Regions from separate parts of the Homo sapiens genome. Here region 1 is linked to region 2. Evidence: fine-mapped expression QTL. Tissue or cell type: whole blood. Region 2 holds a variant in brackets; the other region holds the start of a gene. All regions are shown on one strand. Distances are from middle to middle.

Region 1 (8,097 bases), 100 kb before region 2:
TCTGCCCAGAATACTCTTGCACCAGATCCATGATGGCTTCCTCCCTCATCTGAGACTTCAGGTCTCAGATCACATGTGTTGTCACCAGAGGGTTCCCCTTAACACCTTATATGAAGACCTCCCCTGCTCCCACCCCACCCATTCCTGACACACCCTATCCCCTCTATCCCAAGGTGTTACTCTCCACAGCGTTTCTAATTAACATTTTATATTGAGATAGCTATAGATATTAACTCTTTTAATTGACTGCCTCATTGGCCTAGAAACAGTTTCATAAAGGCATCAACTTGGCCTCTTTTGTTTAACAACTTATGCCGAGTGTCTAGAACAGTGCCTGGCACGTAGAAGGCGCTCAAGTATTTGCTGAATGAATGAGAATCAACGAATGGAACAGACGACTCACAGCTAAGGACTCCTTCCACTATTTATAGGTTTAACTCCTATTACCAAATTATTGCTTAACAAATAAACCGAGTCTTCTGATAATCAGATAGGAAGCAGGTAACAAGCATTTATTTTTTGTTTGTTTTTTTTTTTAATTTGAAAAGCTTTCATCTTAAATAGACACAGGGTCTTGCTATGTTGCCCAGGCCAGTACCAAAATCAGTATAGTCGTTTTTTGTTTTAAGAGACAGGGTTTTACTCTGTTGCCCAGGCTAGAGTACCGTGGCTCGATCATGGCTCATCTGTGAACTTCTGAGCTCAAAAACAATTCACCCACCTCAGCTTCCCAAGTAGCTGGGACTACAGGTGCATGCCACCACGCTCAGCTACTTTTTTTTTTTTTTTTTTTTTTGGTAGAGACAGGGTCTTGCTATGTTGCCCAAGTTGGTCTCTTGGGCTCAGGTGATCTTCCCGCCTCGAACTCCCAAAGTGCTGGGATTACAGGTGTCAGCCATCAATTTGTTTTTACTGGCAATGGCACAAAATTGAGCTATCAGTAAATGGAAGCTTTAGTTAAAACTGAAAGAGTACTAGTATATCCTCTGTAAACAACTCCTCCTAACAAGGTTGTTACTTTTGATGAATGTATCATTAACCTACCAATGTGGTAGGTCTCTAAACCTCAGTCTTCTCATCCATAAAAAGTGAAAGGATTGAATGATACCACATATGGAGAGCATTTAGCACTGTGCTGAGACTCAATAAATGGTCACTAACATGATTATTAAAACAGTGAGGAAGGCCACAAAAATGAGATACAACATTATCATCCTACTACCTGAAACTGTTCATCCTAGACTCTAATAATGTGTGCTGGAATAACAACATGAAAAAGAAATATAAGATTCTTTACTGTCTGCCATACCGTTGGGTCTAGATTTGAAAGATACTCGCACCAGGAGCAGTGGCTCACGACTGTAATCCCAGCACTCTAGGAGGCCGAGGAGGGCAGATCACTGGAGGTCAGGAGTTCAAAACCAGCCTGGCCACATGGTGAAACCTGTCTCTACTAAAATACAAAAATTAGCCAGGCGTGGTGGTGGGCGCCTGTAGTCTCAGCTACTCTGGAGGCTGAGGCAGGCGAATGGCGTGAACCCGGGAGGCGGAGGGTGCAGTAAGCCAGTGCATCCCAGCCTGGCAACAGGGCGAGACCCCATCTCAAAAAAAAAAAAAAAAAAAAAGGCAATCCCATAGTCTAAGGTCAGATAATAAGTAAAACACTTGACCTGAATCAACTCAGCAATCCATCATTTAGGAATTCTGCAAAGATCCTGTAGGTTTTTCATCAATGGGAAATTTCTTTACAATCTTTTGCAGTCAGCCTTCCCTGGGACACACTGGTAGGCAAACCAACCTGGAGAATTAGCTAGATTCGAGAGGTGAGGATTTCCTTTGCTACCCTAAATTCCATGAAGTTTAAATCTCCAGTTAAAATATTTTCTCTGCTACTTTGTGAATAACCACGTATCAAGCCCTTGTTTCTGTTATAAATTTATAATTCTATTTAGTCATAACTGTACAATAAAACAATTATTGTTACTAATTTTGCCAAAGTACAGGCTTCCAACTTAAAGTAGGAAATACAAAACAGGTCTCTCCAAGGTAAAGCCTGGAGACTGATCTCACTAAGAGATCTTATTTCAGTAAGCAGCAGAATGTTCATTTATTAGTGTTAAGAATTATCCTAACCACTTCTCCTAGGGACAGATGGATAAACAGTTCCACATAGCAACCTTGGGAACAATTCCAATTAGGGAATAAGAAGAAAAACAAAACTATGGTTTTGGGCATATGAATATATACTCATTCGCCAAACACTTTTCAAAATGATAGGTTCGATCCTACTTCTAGGCCTTAGGGAATGATTAGTAGTCCAAAATCCATTCTTTCTATTAGATCACTTTCCAAACTGTTTTCCTGCCTGTCCCCCAACCAGGCTCCTGGTCAGGAGCTGTTTTATTTCCTTGTACTTCCATCGTTTAATATTGTGTCCGACACGTAGCTGGTGCTCAAATGGCTGAATGACTACCAAAATGCCCACCCACGAGGCGGGCCCCCAAACCTGGCACTGTAGGTCAAAAATTAAACAGATCGTGAAACGGCATGACAGCAGCCTGGCCCTGCTCTCTGCCTCCAGAAGCTGAGGGCAGGTTGGGAAAAGTGCACTATGCACCCCAGAACCTCCCGAAGTACTGGCAGAACAGAGTGGGCTGTCCGACCCGCACGGGCTGCCTCTGTCCTCCAGGCATAGAACACGATTCTTCTCGTTCTTTAGGGCAGAGGGGACTCGGCTACTGCCCTCTCCTCCAAGCCCAACCTTGAAACGACCCTTCCCCAAGCTGGCCGCGCAAACGCTCCACGACGAAGCCCAAGCCTGGGCGCCCGGAGCTTCCCAGAGGAAAGGCACCGCGGTGCGCTGTGGGAGTCGTAGTTCCCCGGTGAGTTCCGCACCCGGGCGGCCCTACGAACGGGACTCGCGCTCCCAGAACACATCGCGCGGGCGCCTCGCCCAGTCCTGCCACCTCACCTGTTCTATGGACGTGACTGTTTCCACCGAGTCGTCCTGCAACCGCTCTCGCGCGTGCTCGGGCCTCAGACTGTACAGCGGCTCTGACCAGACGGGGGAGGAAGATGGAGGGCAATAGTAGGTGAAAGAACTCGGAGAAGCCATGATCAGGAGAGCAGCAGACAGTGTGTAGGACTCTGCTTCGTTAAGCAACAACGCGCATTGAAACTCGAGCGGGCTAAAGCGCTACGGCGAGCGGATAGAGGCAAAAAGATTTTGAACGCGAATGTCTCCTCCCGCCTACCCGTCTTTCGAGTGAGTTACTGAGATGCTGCCGCCCCCCATTGGGCAGAGGAGCTGCTGCAAGAGCGTAGAGTCCTGAAGCGCAAGGGTGTCTACATCCGAATTTCATTTCAGCGAGATGGCGTAGGACGCCTCGGTTTGTTACGCAAATTGTTAAAGAACTGTAACATTCTGCTAATTCTCACTTAATTGTAATGCAATTGTTTGCAATTTCAGGTGCCCAAGAACCCAATGAATGTTAAGTTTGAAAGCATTTCTGACAGCTCTACTGATTTGCCTCAGTCAGGCAATTACTAAAAGAATTATTGTGCACCTTGGGGTACTTGACAGCCTCCCAGGAGAAGGCAGCAGCTGCTCAAACGTGCAAGGACGCCGTCTCAGTATCACTCAGTGATGGAGGGAGGGGGGTATTATGATTTTCTCCTGTCTCTTGGAGGTTACACTGCAGTAGCGAGAACTGAAATGCAGTACAAGGAACAAGGATAAGTGAAATAGACAGTCAGTCCGCAGATATTTATGGAACACCTGCTATGTGTCAGGCATTGTGCTAGGTTCTAGGAATACAAAAGTGAACAAAACGAAGTCCCTTCCCTTGGAAACCTTACATTCTAAGAAAATCGACAGAATTGAATGTATCCAACGCAATAAATATATGAAGACTTGTGATAAATGAGATGAAGGAAAATAACAGGGTCTATGAGAGAGACTAAAGGGGTAAGAAACTAATTGAATTGTATGGTCAGGCCAAGCCTCTCTAAATGACCTTTCATTTGAGATCCGAAGGATGACGAGGAGTCATCCAGAAGAACAGTATGGGAAAGAACTCCTGAAAAAGGAAGAAACAGCAGCTTTTAGAAGACATGTGCTGGGCACGGTGGCTCACGCCTGTAACCCCAGCACTTTGGGAGGCTGAGGCAGGAGGATCACTTGAGGAGTTAGAACATCCTGGGCAACATAGCAAGACCTCATCTCTATTAAATATCAAAAAAATTAGCCGGGCGTGGTGGCGCATGCCTGTAGTCCCAGCTGCTCGACAGGCTAAGGTGGGAGGATCTCTTGAGCCCAAGAAGTCGAGGCTGCAGTGAGCTATGATTGTGCCACTGCACTCCAGCCTGGGTGGCAGAGCGAGACCCTGTTTCAAAAAAAAAAAAAAAGCAAAACAAAAAAACAAACAAAAACCATAGGCTCAAGTGACCCTCCTGCCTCAGCCTCCTGAGTATCTGGAACTACAGATGCTCACCACCACGCCCAGCTAGAATAAAAGAAATTCTTATTGATTCTTATGGAGTGGACTTACTCATCACACTTGCCTCCAGAACAACCAAGTTTAAAGTTGTGATTTTTAGGAAAACGCTGCTACCTTTGGACAAGCAATAGAAGAGAATTTATTTTAGGGCATGCATCAAAAGTACTACACCAAAAATTATAATACCAAGAGATTAAACTGGGGGAGTTGTATGTAGGAGATTATAGAAGGTATGATAACAGACATTCCGGGTACACTTGGAGACAAGCTTTACTTCCTGCTCAGAGCACTTCACTCTGTTCCCACTCCATTCCATGTCACATGTCTAGGATCCAGGGATTATAGACCAGAGTGACATTTGACAACCAGCCATTCCCCTGTTCTCAGTCTCTGGTAGTAAATAGAAGCACTCACAAAAATTTCAAAGATGAGGCTGGGCTGGCCTAAAGACCTCAGGTGGATAAATACTACCACCATGTCCATTTTAGTGGTACTGTTGCTGAACTAAGACCTAGAGGCACCAGAATATTACCAAATCTGGAAATAAGGGGACAGTATGGGTTAGGACCCATGGATAAGGCTGCACAATGTGAAATGGTCTCATTATACTGCCCCCTGTATTGGCATCTTACTGTCTTTCCCTTAGTTATATTTTGGGAAATAAATGGTCTGATAAGGTCAGGGTTATATCTAAGGATTCAGCCTTTGTCACAAAGAGTTTCTTTGCAGGAGAGCTGGAAACTTAACGCTTCAATCCTGAAGACTGTGCTATTGAAAGAATAGCTGGGACAGTTTTGTGACAAATTGTTGCATCTGTCACAGATGCACCTAAAGCAATTGCAAACTGTATTTTAGAAATAAAAATTCATCTCTGAAATTCAGTCTCCTCTGCAGTGGGATCCAAAAGATGTGAATAGGAACATGGGCAAGAGTCTCCGGCAGGATAGTGTGTTCTCATTCAATTAATGTTTATTGAGTACAGGGTAAGTGCTGGGCACTGAGCTAAGTGCTAAGGAGACAGCAGTGAACAAGCCAGACACAGTCTCTGCCATTATGGGTCTCATGACTTACCAGAAAAAACATTAAACAGTAATGACAGAATTGACTCTTTCATGACAGTTGGGAGAAATGGGATGAGGCAGAAAGAAGCATGGAGTGTGTGAGCTTGCATGATGGGGGGACCCTAAGGTAGCCTGGAAGGTCTGGAAAGACTCCCATGAGGAAGTGAGTTAATTAATCCAGGGGATGAGAACATCCCAGGCAGAGGAAACCCAGTGACAACACCAAATCAAGTGAAACCAGCAATGAAAAATATGTGGGGTTTGTACTCCATGTAAGCATCAAGAAGACCTGGATCAAATAGCCCACTAGTTGTCCCTCCTCTTGGTTTAATAAAACCACTCATTCAAGAAGCAGAATGAACATAAATATTAATGGTGCTATAGAGAATGATATATTTAGAGAGAAAACTCTTAGTCATGATAATAGCAACTCCAGCTTGGACTGCAGATGGTTTATGTTTATTTTACTCACATGCCTGATACTCTTTTCTAAATTAAACTGATCGTGTTTCTTTAAAAATAATATTAAATGTGGACCGTGCTGTTTTATACTTTTAAGAGCAAGAAAAAGAAAAAAGTAATGGTCTAAATGAACCCCTAGAGGTCGCTTCCGACCCTGGAGTGCGTTTAGGGAGTAAGTTTTAAAACTGCTCTCACCGTTCTCCCTGTTTTCACTCATACAAGCCGTATGTCGGAATGAATTGTTTCCTTTAATATCTTGTGAAACTGTGTAGTAATACATATTGGAACATTTGGAAAATGGAAAGAACTCATCTATTATCCCGCTAGGTAATTAACTTCCTCCCCAAGTTTACTGCCCACCATCATCTGTGCCCTCCTACTCGGCGGTCCTGTCCCTCCTATTCCCCTAGATGGAATGACTGCCCCATCTCCTACCTAGGACCAGGTCATCTCCCTCCCCTCACGCGCCACCCCCCAAAGACTGTCGCAATTCTCCCTTTCCTTTCCTAAAACACCAAATTTTTCCTCTACTTGATCATCCAGATCTCCCTCAAGCATGCCATTTTCTCATTCTTGGCAGCGTGGAGGGTGAGGGGCTTTTTTTTTTTTTTTTTTTTTGAGACAGAGTCTCGCTCTGTCGCCCAGGCTGGAGTGCAGTGGCGCGATCTCGGCTCACTGCAACCTCCACCTCCCGGTTTCACGCCATTCTCCTGCCTCAGCCTCCCAAGTAGCTGGGACTACAGGCGCCCGCCACCACGCCCGGCTAATTTTTTTTTTTTTTTTTTTTTTTTTAGTAGAGACGGTGTTTCACCGTGTTAGCCAGGATGGTCTCGATCTCCTGACCTCGTGATCCGCCCGCCTCGGCCTCCCAAAGTCCTGGGATTACAGGCATGAGCCACCGCGCCTGGCTATGAGGGGGTGGGGGGGGGTGCATCTCTAACCCTCTTGATTCCACTCCTTCTCCAGCTACCTCCCGATGACTCATTGGCGGAGACCCTTGAAAGATTTGCTACTACTAACGTCTCCAGGTCCTCTCTTCCAACTCTCTCAAGCCCATTCTAATCAGGTTTTCCAATCGTTTCTTATCAACTCTCCATTAAATTCCATATCGCCAAATCCAAGGGCCAGGTCTCAGTCCTGATCTCAAGTCTTCCTTCTTGACTTCCCAGCAATATTTGCACAGTTGATCATTTCCCTTCTTGAAACACATTGTCCTTGTGGTGCCTCACACTGGTTTTCCTCCTTCCTTGCCTTTCTAATATCTTGGATACCTTAGCTTGGGGTACCCCAGGATTCAGTCCTCAGACTTCTTATCTGTCTGCACTAACTTCCCTGTCAGCTCAGGCAGTCTCAATGTTTTAAATAACACTTATAGGTTGAAAACTCCCTAATTTGTATCTCCAACCTGGATCTCTCCTGAACTCCAGAGTTCATGTCTAATGTCTATTTGCATTTCCACTTAGATCTCCAATAGGCATCTCAAACTTAACATATCCACAACAGAGCTGCTGGTCTTCCCTTCCAAACTTGTGCACTCAGTCTCCCCGATCTCTATTATGATAACTCCATCCTTCCAGTTACTCCAAATACCTTGGAATCATTCTTGCTGCCTCTCTTTTTCTCACTCCTTGTAAGTTCTGTTCTAAATATATCTAGCATCTGATCACTGCTTACCAATCCCACTGCCAGTGTCCTGGTCCAAGCCACCATCATCTGTTACTTGGATTCTTACACTAATCTCTTAACTGTTCTCCCTCTTTTCACTCTTGTCCCCCTGTACCCTAATACAAACTTGCTATAGACTGAATGTTTAGGTGCCCCCAGTAGTCATATGTTGAAACCTAATCCCCAATATGAAGGTGTTTGAAGGTGGAGCCTTTGGTAGGTGTTTGGGTCATGAGGGCCGAGCTGCCATAAATGGGATTCATGTCCTTATAAAAGAGACCCCACAGAGCTCCCTCACTCCTTCTGCCATATAAGGACACATAGAGAAGGCATCACCTATGAGCCAGGAAGCAGGCCCTCACCAGACACCGAATCTGCAGGTGCCTTGATGTTGGACTTTATTTCTGTTG
Region 2 (8,102 bases):
TAAATGCACTTTTAAAAATAGAATTTTTCATACCAAAAAAATGAGGAAAATGATATTTCTGAGAAGACCCAGTTATATTCTGTATGAATTCTATAAAACATATGTTTGAATTGAATCATAGTTTCTTGTAGACCAGACCTTAAATCATTGAAGAAATATCCAAACAGAAATTGAGCAGCTGTAGAAATATCCAATAGAAAAGAAAATGAGATGAATTTGCAGAAGTAATGGAGTCTTTTATTGCAATGTCTTTCCAAACTTTATTGAAAATTTCCCAAAGGTCTTGGTTAATATTAAGAACAAATATTTGTGAATTTGGAAACTGCTCACTAACAAATAAAAGCAATTAACAAGACCATTTATGCTGGCAGTAATTATCATATAAACACAAAATTGTTTTATTGGTTAAACTGTTAGAACTCCAGCTGTCATTCCATATTAACAAATTTGATTTTTTAAAATTATATTTTCTACCCTTGATTTGAGTTTCTGGCTTGATAAATATTAATAAAGGAAGAGAACAAAGTTTTCATGGTTAGTTACTCTCAGTTGTCTACTTGCAGACTACCCACTGTCTGGAGTACTCAAGGTAGAGTGTTAATATCAAAACAACATTAACTCACTCCTTATAATGCGTTTGGATTCATCTTCCTATGTTCTTAATCCTGTGTACTCAAGGCTTTGGCATATTGGAGTATGGGAGTTGGAGCAGGGCCATTGCCCAAGGATGAGGACTGAAAATGACACTGAGAGGGTGGAGCAGACAGAGACAAAAGCTAACCGAATCATCATTATTGTGTTTGCTATCCCTTGTTATAAAGACGTTGGAAGATGGCAGACCCCTGCCTCCATAGATGAGCTCAGTGGTAACTGTGAGCATAAAACCTACTCGATTCACTCCATTTCTCACCCATTGACAATAAGTTAGGTATGGATGCATCAGGGTAGCTGAGGACCTGGTGAAATTCAGGCACAAATATTGCCAGCTATGTTTCAGGGAATGTGAATTCATTTAAATAACCTTATTCGAACATAGATAGGAAAGTTAATCTCCTGAAAAAAATCACAAATATGCATTTTTAAGCCAAATAGAAATGACTTTTTGAATTACCTGTTCTTTGGTTGATCTCCAAGATTGCAACCTCCTTTAATTTCCATAATGTGTTCATTCATTTATTTACTCATTTGCTCATTAGGCCTTTATTAAGTATATCTTTTGTGTCAGATACTATGCTAAGTGCCAGGAATCTTAAAACTATATCCTGAAAGCAATGGGGAGCCACTGGCTGATTTAAAGAAGCAGAGTGACAAGACCAACCTTCCTTTTTAGAAAGTGTACTTTGGCTACTATGTGGAAGCAGAATTGAAGGAGAGGGAAACTGGAGAACGGATGAACAGGTAAGAGGCTCCAGAAGCAATTCATTGTGAGAAAAGATGAGGCTGTGTGATGGACTTAATTGTATCCCCCTAAATTCACATGTTGAAGTCTTAGATCTCAATGCCTCAGAAAGTGACTGTATTTGGAGATAAGGCTTTACAGAGGTAGTGAAAGTAAAACTGAGGTCATATGGATGGGCCCTAACCAAATATAACTCATGTCCATAAAAAAAAAAAAGAGAGTAGGACATAGGTGCACACAAAGTGGAGACTATGTGAAGACAGAGGGAAAAGATAGCCCTCTACAAGCCAAGGAGAGAGGCTTCAGAAGAAATCAACCCTGCCGAAACCTTGATCTTGGACTTCTAGACCCTAGTACTGTAAGAAAATTAATTTTTGTGTTTGAGTCACCCAGCATATGGTACTTTGTCATGGGAGCCCTAGCAAATTAATACAGCCTTGGGAACAAGGTGAATTAGCACCTACAGGTCCCAGTTCATCAGATACCCCAGTGTAAGTCTGCCATTACATCTACTCAAGCTCATGTGAGGTGACAAAAAACCTAATCCTGTGTGGCAAGGAAAGATCAGGAACTGCAATATAAGAAAAGATGCAGCCAGGCATGGTGGCTCACACCTGTAATCCTAGCACTTTGAGAGGCCAAGGCAGGTGGATCACGAGGTCAGGAGTTCGAGACTAGCCTGACCAACATGGTGAAACCCCGTCTCTACTAAAAATACAAAAATTAGCTGGGCATGGTGGCGCATGCCTGTAATCCCAGCTACTCAGGAGGCTGAGGTGGGAAAATCACTTGAACCCAGGAGGTGGAGGTTGCAGTGAGCCACTGCATTCCAGCCTGGGCAACAGAGCAAGACTCCACCTCAAAAAAAAAAAAAAGAAAAGAAAAGATGCTCATTAATTTCCAAGCCTGGTTAATGCTTCCATGGACTAGCAGATGACAGGATACAAATCTTGTTTTGCTTTTTCCTGTTATTGGTGGAGGGAAATTTGAAATTGGTGTCATCTGCCCCTTCAGAAGATGGTTCATCTGGTATTTGCAAACTTGCTGCAGGCTTTCAAGTTCCTTCCACAACCATTCTGTTTGAGGCATCTGAAGGGCAAGTTTGGTCCCTAATCCTTGATTCCTCCATATTGTAAATGGCAGGCTTTTCCAATTGGTCCTGCTGCTGCTTTGTCTTTGAAAGTTGTGGAGAATGTGATGCCTCTAGATGTTTCCAAAAATGAAATGGAAATTTCACCTTAATTTTATGAAATGCATGTCTTTGCAAAAGGGTAAAGAAGGGAAATAATGATTTTTGAGCTATGGGCAGTATTCTGATGATTTCTGAACATTATCATGAGTTCTTGATACCTCCATTGTTGTTGGCGGGGATTTGAGTTTGAGTTGAGTGGAACTTCAGGTTTGTTTGGTTTGGTATTTACGTTTTTCCGTAGCTTTCCTACATATATATTCATTTCTGAATTCAAGTGGTTCATTTATTTCACACAAATAACTTTGGTTATGTGATTCAGTTTTTTGTTTTTGTTTTTATTTTTGTTTTAGATAGGGTCTTGCTCTGTCACCCAAGCTGGAGTACAGTGGCGTGATCATAGCTCACTGCTGCTTCGAACTCCTAGGCTCAGGTGATCCTCCCACCTCAGCCTCCCAAAGTGCTGGGATTACAGGCATGAGCCATCGCATCCAGCTCAAAATATTTTTAGGATCAATTTAATTCAAGGCCAAGCAAGTTGGTGTAGCTTATTATAGTTTTTGGTTTATGACTTATTTTTATTCAATGTCTTGGGTTTTATAAATAAAATCATAAACTTTAAAACTGTTCATAAAACTGTGAACTATATTTAAAAATCATCTGGCTGGCAACTCAGTTGGTTTTTATAATCTGAAAATTTATGCTTTTCTTCAACTCTGAGAATTTCTATTCTACTTTCCCATTATTACCTTCTTCTACTCTCTTTTCTTTCCTTTTGTAACTTCCATTAAGCAAATACTGGACCTTGGGGGATTTTGCCTACATGGCTTTCAACCATTTTCACATACTTTCCATCTCCTTTGTCTTTTGCCCGGTGTTTGGGGAAAATTTCTTTGGCTTCTGTTTCCACTAATTTGCCCTTCAAGTAGGTCTGTTCTGCTTCTCAACTAATGAATTTTCAATATCAGAAATGACTTTTTAAATTTCTAAGGTTTCTCACTGATTATTTGTTGTGGATGCAATATCCTTTCAAGACTTGCTGATTAAAATTAAATTATTTAACATTTATCTTGTTCCTTTTATTAACTTAGTTTCCTCTGATATTATTTCCTTCTATTAGTTGGGTTTGGTGCTTCTCTTTCATGGTATTGGTTCCCCTCTCCCCATAAGATATTTGGTGGTTGTCCTATCATCCCTTAATGTGGGAATGGGCTTGTCTCCTCTTTCTGCTTATCATAGCCTATCTTCAGGGGCTGTGAAGAAGGGTCAGGACATGCTATCCCAAGAGAGTGAATGGTTTCTGTCATTTCTTGGGGTCACTAGATCCCTGAGCTCTGCCCCTTGGGTCCCAGGATCCCCATTAACTTTTTTTTTAAGTCCTGCAGGCAAACACCTGATATTTAATGTGAGCAGGACAGAGGAGGCTCCTAAGTGAATTATTCTGTCTCAGGGCCCCTCCTCCTCTTGTATCCTTTAACTATTGCTTGCAACTTCCCTAAACTATTGCTCCTCCTGAATCTGTTTTGGTTTCCTCTGATTTTGTTTCTCTGTGAATCAGATCTTGCATCTTTTCTGTATCTCTGGATTTCTTGAACATTGTTGGAACACTGATCCCCTTTTCCTTATTTTCCTGTGCTTTTAGATGCCTGTTTCAGACATATCTTCTAATGAAATTTGGGGTAGAAGAGAAGCTAAATGCGTGTATTCAATCCACCATCTCCATCCAATCTTTACTTTTTAATTTATTTATCATCTCTACTTATTATTAAACAATACAAGCTTATTGTGAAAAACTCAAAGACTACAGAAATGGAAAGTGAAAGTTCCCTCTTATGTTAGATGATTCTAACATAAGTCTCAACTTATATCTTCTTGGCCTCACCTGTTGGTTTCAGCTAGACCTGAGTAGACAGTTCTGTGAAGGTTTACCCCCCACTCTCTGGCTGTCAACATCTATTCTCAAATGCACACCTTCTCTTCTGGCCCCAGAACTCTTCCAAATCTGCAGACTGCCTATGTGGAGCTTGCTGGGTAGCTCGGAAGTGTAGGTTTTCAACATGGGTGGGAGACCAGTGGGGGCAGTCCTTTGTCCAACCAGGATGAGGGTTAATCTCCTATCCTTCACATAGACAATTCCAAGAGGTATTCTATACTCTTCTGAGGAGGTCCCTCCAGACGTGATCCCTATTGCCCACAATGATGACCTTGATAACGAACATATGTATGTGTTTCCTTCTCCCTTCTTTTTTTTTTTTTTTTTTTGAAACAGAGTCTTGCTTTGTCACCCAGGTGGGAGTGCAGTGGCGTGATCTTGGCTCACTGCAGCCTATGCCTCCCAGGTTCAAGTGATTCTCCTGCCTCAGCTTCCCAAGTAGCTGGGATTACAGGTGCGCACCACCACACCCAGCTAATTTTTGTGTTTTTAGTAGAGATAGGGTTTTGCCATGTTGGCCAGGCTTGTCTTGAACTCCTGACCTCAAGTGATC[C/T]GCCTGCCTCGGCCTCCCAAAGTACTGGGATTACAGGTGTGAGTCACCATGCCCAACCTTTCTCCCTTCTTTTATTCTCCCAATTTCTCATTCCTGGCCACAGAGATCTGTTCCCCTTTCCCTATTATTTGACAATGCCCTTTCCTCACTGCAAGCCTAAATTTCCTCTCTTCCTCAGTTCTGATTTATCATTTCACTGTAACTCTATTAGCTGTAAAGCATTTGGGGATGCTGTCAGGATAACATGCTCTGTAGCAAATGAGGTTGTATTGAATTATTTAGCTTTCAGCTAAAGTGGAGATAACTAAAGCAGCTGAGCTGGTTTGTAAAATGTTGGGGTAATCTGTCTGCTGATTTGGAGTTTTATCATATTAATTTTTTCTTATGGTTGAAAATTATAAATTTTAAGGCTACAAAGAAAAATATGTATGCAACTATTCAGTTCAGTGCCACAGACCTATAGCTAAGGAATTATCTGGCTTGCATAGTATATAATTACGTAGCTGCAGAACCACCATTCTAGAGAACCATGAATTTATCTAATAAGTTTATTCATACAAGCTTTTAAAAAACCATAAATACATAATTTCCCTCCATTTTTTTCTAACAAAAATAGATGAAGGATTTCTTCTTGAGATATATAATAGTCTCAGCTTTTGAAGTTGGCCTGTTTTTCTTGAGCTTTCCTTGCCAGAATTTGACTTTTAAACATTTTTTTTCACAAAACAGAACTTTCTCTTTTTAACTCAGTAATAGAAAAATGCATTCTTAAATGTTGTCAACAAAGGGGAGGAGGGGATCACTGCGAATCTATCGATGACCATGAATGTTTTTGTATCCTCTTTCCCATATTACTAGTGTCTCTTGGAAAATTGAGCTGTAATAAGGATCCAGCCAAGAGGAGGGTGGAGTGAAGAATTCTGTGGCTCTGTAATACCTGGGGCGTTTGTCCCACTCAGCACATCTCAGTGTCTAAATACCCACCCTCAAGAAGTGGGACTGCAGCAGGAAGTGAAGTATCTTTGCATATGTTCAATATATAAACTAAACTCGAACATCTGGCAAACACCCCTTTCCTGGGTGAATTCTGGAAAACAGCACAATTATAATCCCAAGCAAATAACTCAGGAGTAAGACTGTTCCCTTGTTAAGAACACCAGGCAGCATCAGTAAAAGTTAAAACTTCTTCTGCATCTATGCGCTTTTAATCTCCACGGCCATTTCCATAATACCTGAGATTACCTGCGTTGATAGCTGGTGAGAAATCATCCCAGGCACCGCAGGTGGAGAAAAGAGATGAAAGCTACCTCAAGGCGTACACGTAAACCTTACTGAACAATGACCTTGATCGTTAGAAAGTCAAGAAAATGTACTGCCTTGCAAGCTGCCGGTGTTCTATTGAGTTTCTCTCCGGGGGCAACTCGGAGATGCCTTTTTGGCACCATCGGTTCTAGTATTTCCTCTGGCCTGCTGCGCCGCGCCTCATCCAGGCTTGTAGTGAGGCACCCCCACTCGCCCGGAGACCCGGGCCGGCCAGGAGGTGCCAGTGGGCAGGTGTGGCAGCCTGCCTGTTGATTACAGTCCCTACAATGTGCGAGCTCCTTGGGACTGCAGGCTGCGCGCCGCCAGCTTTGCCTGGTTCGTCCTGATTACACTAGGTTTTCGGGCAGAAACAGCGACACTGAGCTCGGGCTGGGGGTGGGGCCCTCGGGCCCAGTGCCCGCCCCCTGCCCTCCCACCGCCAGCCGAGAGAAGCCCGCCCGGGAGCGCGCTTTCTAATGCACCAGCCCCCGGGAACAATCTGTCCCTCCCAAACCCGCCACGGCGGGGGTTCACCTCCCGGGTACCCGCCGCGCCCACCCTATGGCCTAAATGTCTTTTCATATATTTTAAAAACTGAACTGTGTGCAGTGGGGATGCAGGGCGGGAAAGGCTGGAGGGCTCATTTTCGCCACCAGGCTTGCCTCTCCGGGCGCACGAATTAGGCCCGAGCTAGAGTCCAACCCCCTTCCCGCCTCAGGGGGCTCGGGGTGGCGCGGGGTTAGGGGCAATGAACGACGATGGAGGCGCCCCAGGCTCAGCGGCGGGCGGGGAGGCAGAGGCGGGTTCCAGGAGCCGGGCTGAGGCCCGGCAGGTGCCCCCAGGCGCGGAGGCTGATTGGCAGGTGCGTGAGTGGGTGGGGAAGGCGGGGGCTGGGCTTGGCGCTGCGGGAGGCTGCGGCCCCGCCTCCCCGCCCCCGCCGCGGGACTATCTGGTCCCGGCAGCAGCGATGTCCCCCGGCAGGAATGTCCCTCCTCAGATAATGTTATTTATATCTCTGGGCGGGTCCGCGGCTCGGCAGCACCAGGCGCCCGGCGGCCGCTGTGCCAGGAGCCCCGCGCTGCCCTCCTCCCCCTGCGCCGCCGCCGCCGCCACCCCCGGGCTCGGGGTGGCCCCCGCTTCAGTCCCAGGGCAGGTGAGTCCCAGGAGGGCCCGGCGGCCAAGGGAGCTGGGTGCGGGTGCGCAAGGCTGGGACGCGCGGCGCCAGCTCAAAGGAGCGCTGGGCCCAGGGGGCGCCTGACGCGCAGGGCCCAGAGGACCGGGTGGGAGTCCAGCCCCGGTTGTCGGGCGTGGGGTGGGAGGGGTGCGGGGCCCGGGAAGCCCGGCAGCTGCGGCAAAGATCATCCCGGGACGCGGGAACGCGCGCGGGCGTCCGAGGCACTTGGTGCTAGCTTTGGAGAGCGGGATCCCGGAGAGTCCGTCACCCCGGGGCGCAGGGAGAGGGTGACGGGGGTGCGTGTTCTCGTCCGCCTTCTCCAGGACCCCGGCCTGGGAGCGAAGGGGATTGCGCCTCTAGCCCGTCCGACCGCAGCGCTGCTCTCTGCCTTTTTTTGTCCGGCTTCTCAGCCTTGTGGCCGCTCATATCCCTCTTCTGGGGAACTTGGCTGCGCTCTCCTCGGGCCACCCAGCGCCCAGGCAGGAGGGACAGGTGAGGGCAGCAGAGGGGGCCGGGCCTCCGGGTGCTGGGAGCCACCCAGAGAGTGACCCC

What was found. PIP is the estimated chance that this variant, and not a neighbour inherited with it, causes the effect.
Region 1: FNTB starts here. The variant in region 2 is fine-mapped to the expression of FNTB in whole blood (TOPMed, PIP above 0.99).

Annotation. Positions count from the first base shown.
Region 1 is chr14:64,981,972-64,990,068 of GRCh38, reverse strand. FNTB (farnesyltransferase, CAAX box, subunit beta) reads right to left here and starts at 3,174. Exons shown (of 12, transcript NM_002028.4): 1 at 2,972-3,174. The coding sequence starts at 3,115. All of the region lies in intron 3 of CHURC1-FNTB (CHURC1-FNTB readthrough), which reads right to left. LOC107984655 (a long non-coding RNA gene) reads left to right here and starts at 2,956. Exons shown (of 2, transcript XR_001750792.2): 1 at 2,956-3,389; 2 at 3,470-4,530. RefSeq lists an enhancer at 8,045-8,097.
Region 2 is chr14:64,879,219-64,887,320 of GRCh38, reverse strand. SPTB (spectrin beta, erythrocytic) reads left to right here and starts at 7,414. Exons shown (of 36, transcript NM_001355436.2): 1 at 7,414-7,529. LOC105370534 (a long non-coding RNA gene) reads left to right here. Exons shown (of 3, transcript XR_943942.3): 2 at 1,331-1,398; 3 at 5,933-6,440. RefSeq lists silencers at 6,794-6,873, 6,944-7,083, 7,134-7,303. The variant C/T (reference allele first, on the strand shown) is at 5,075.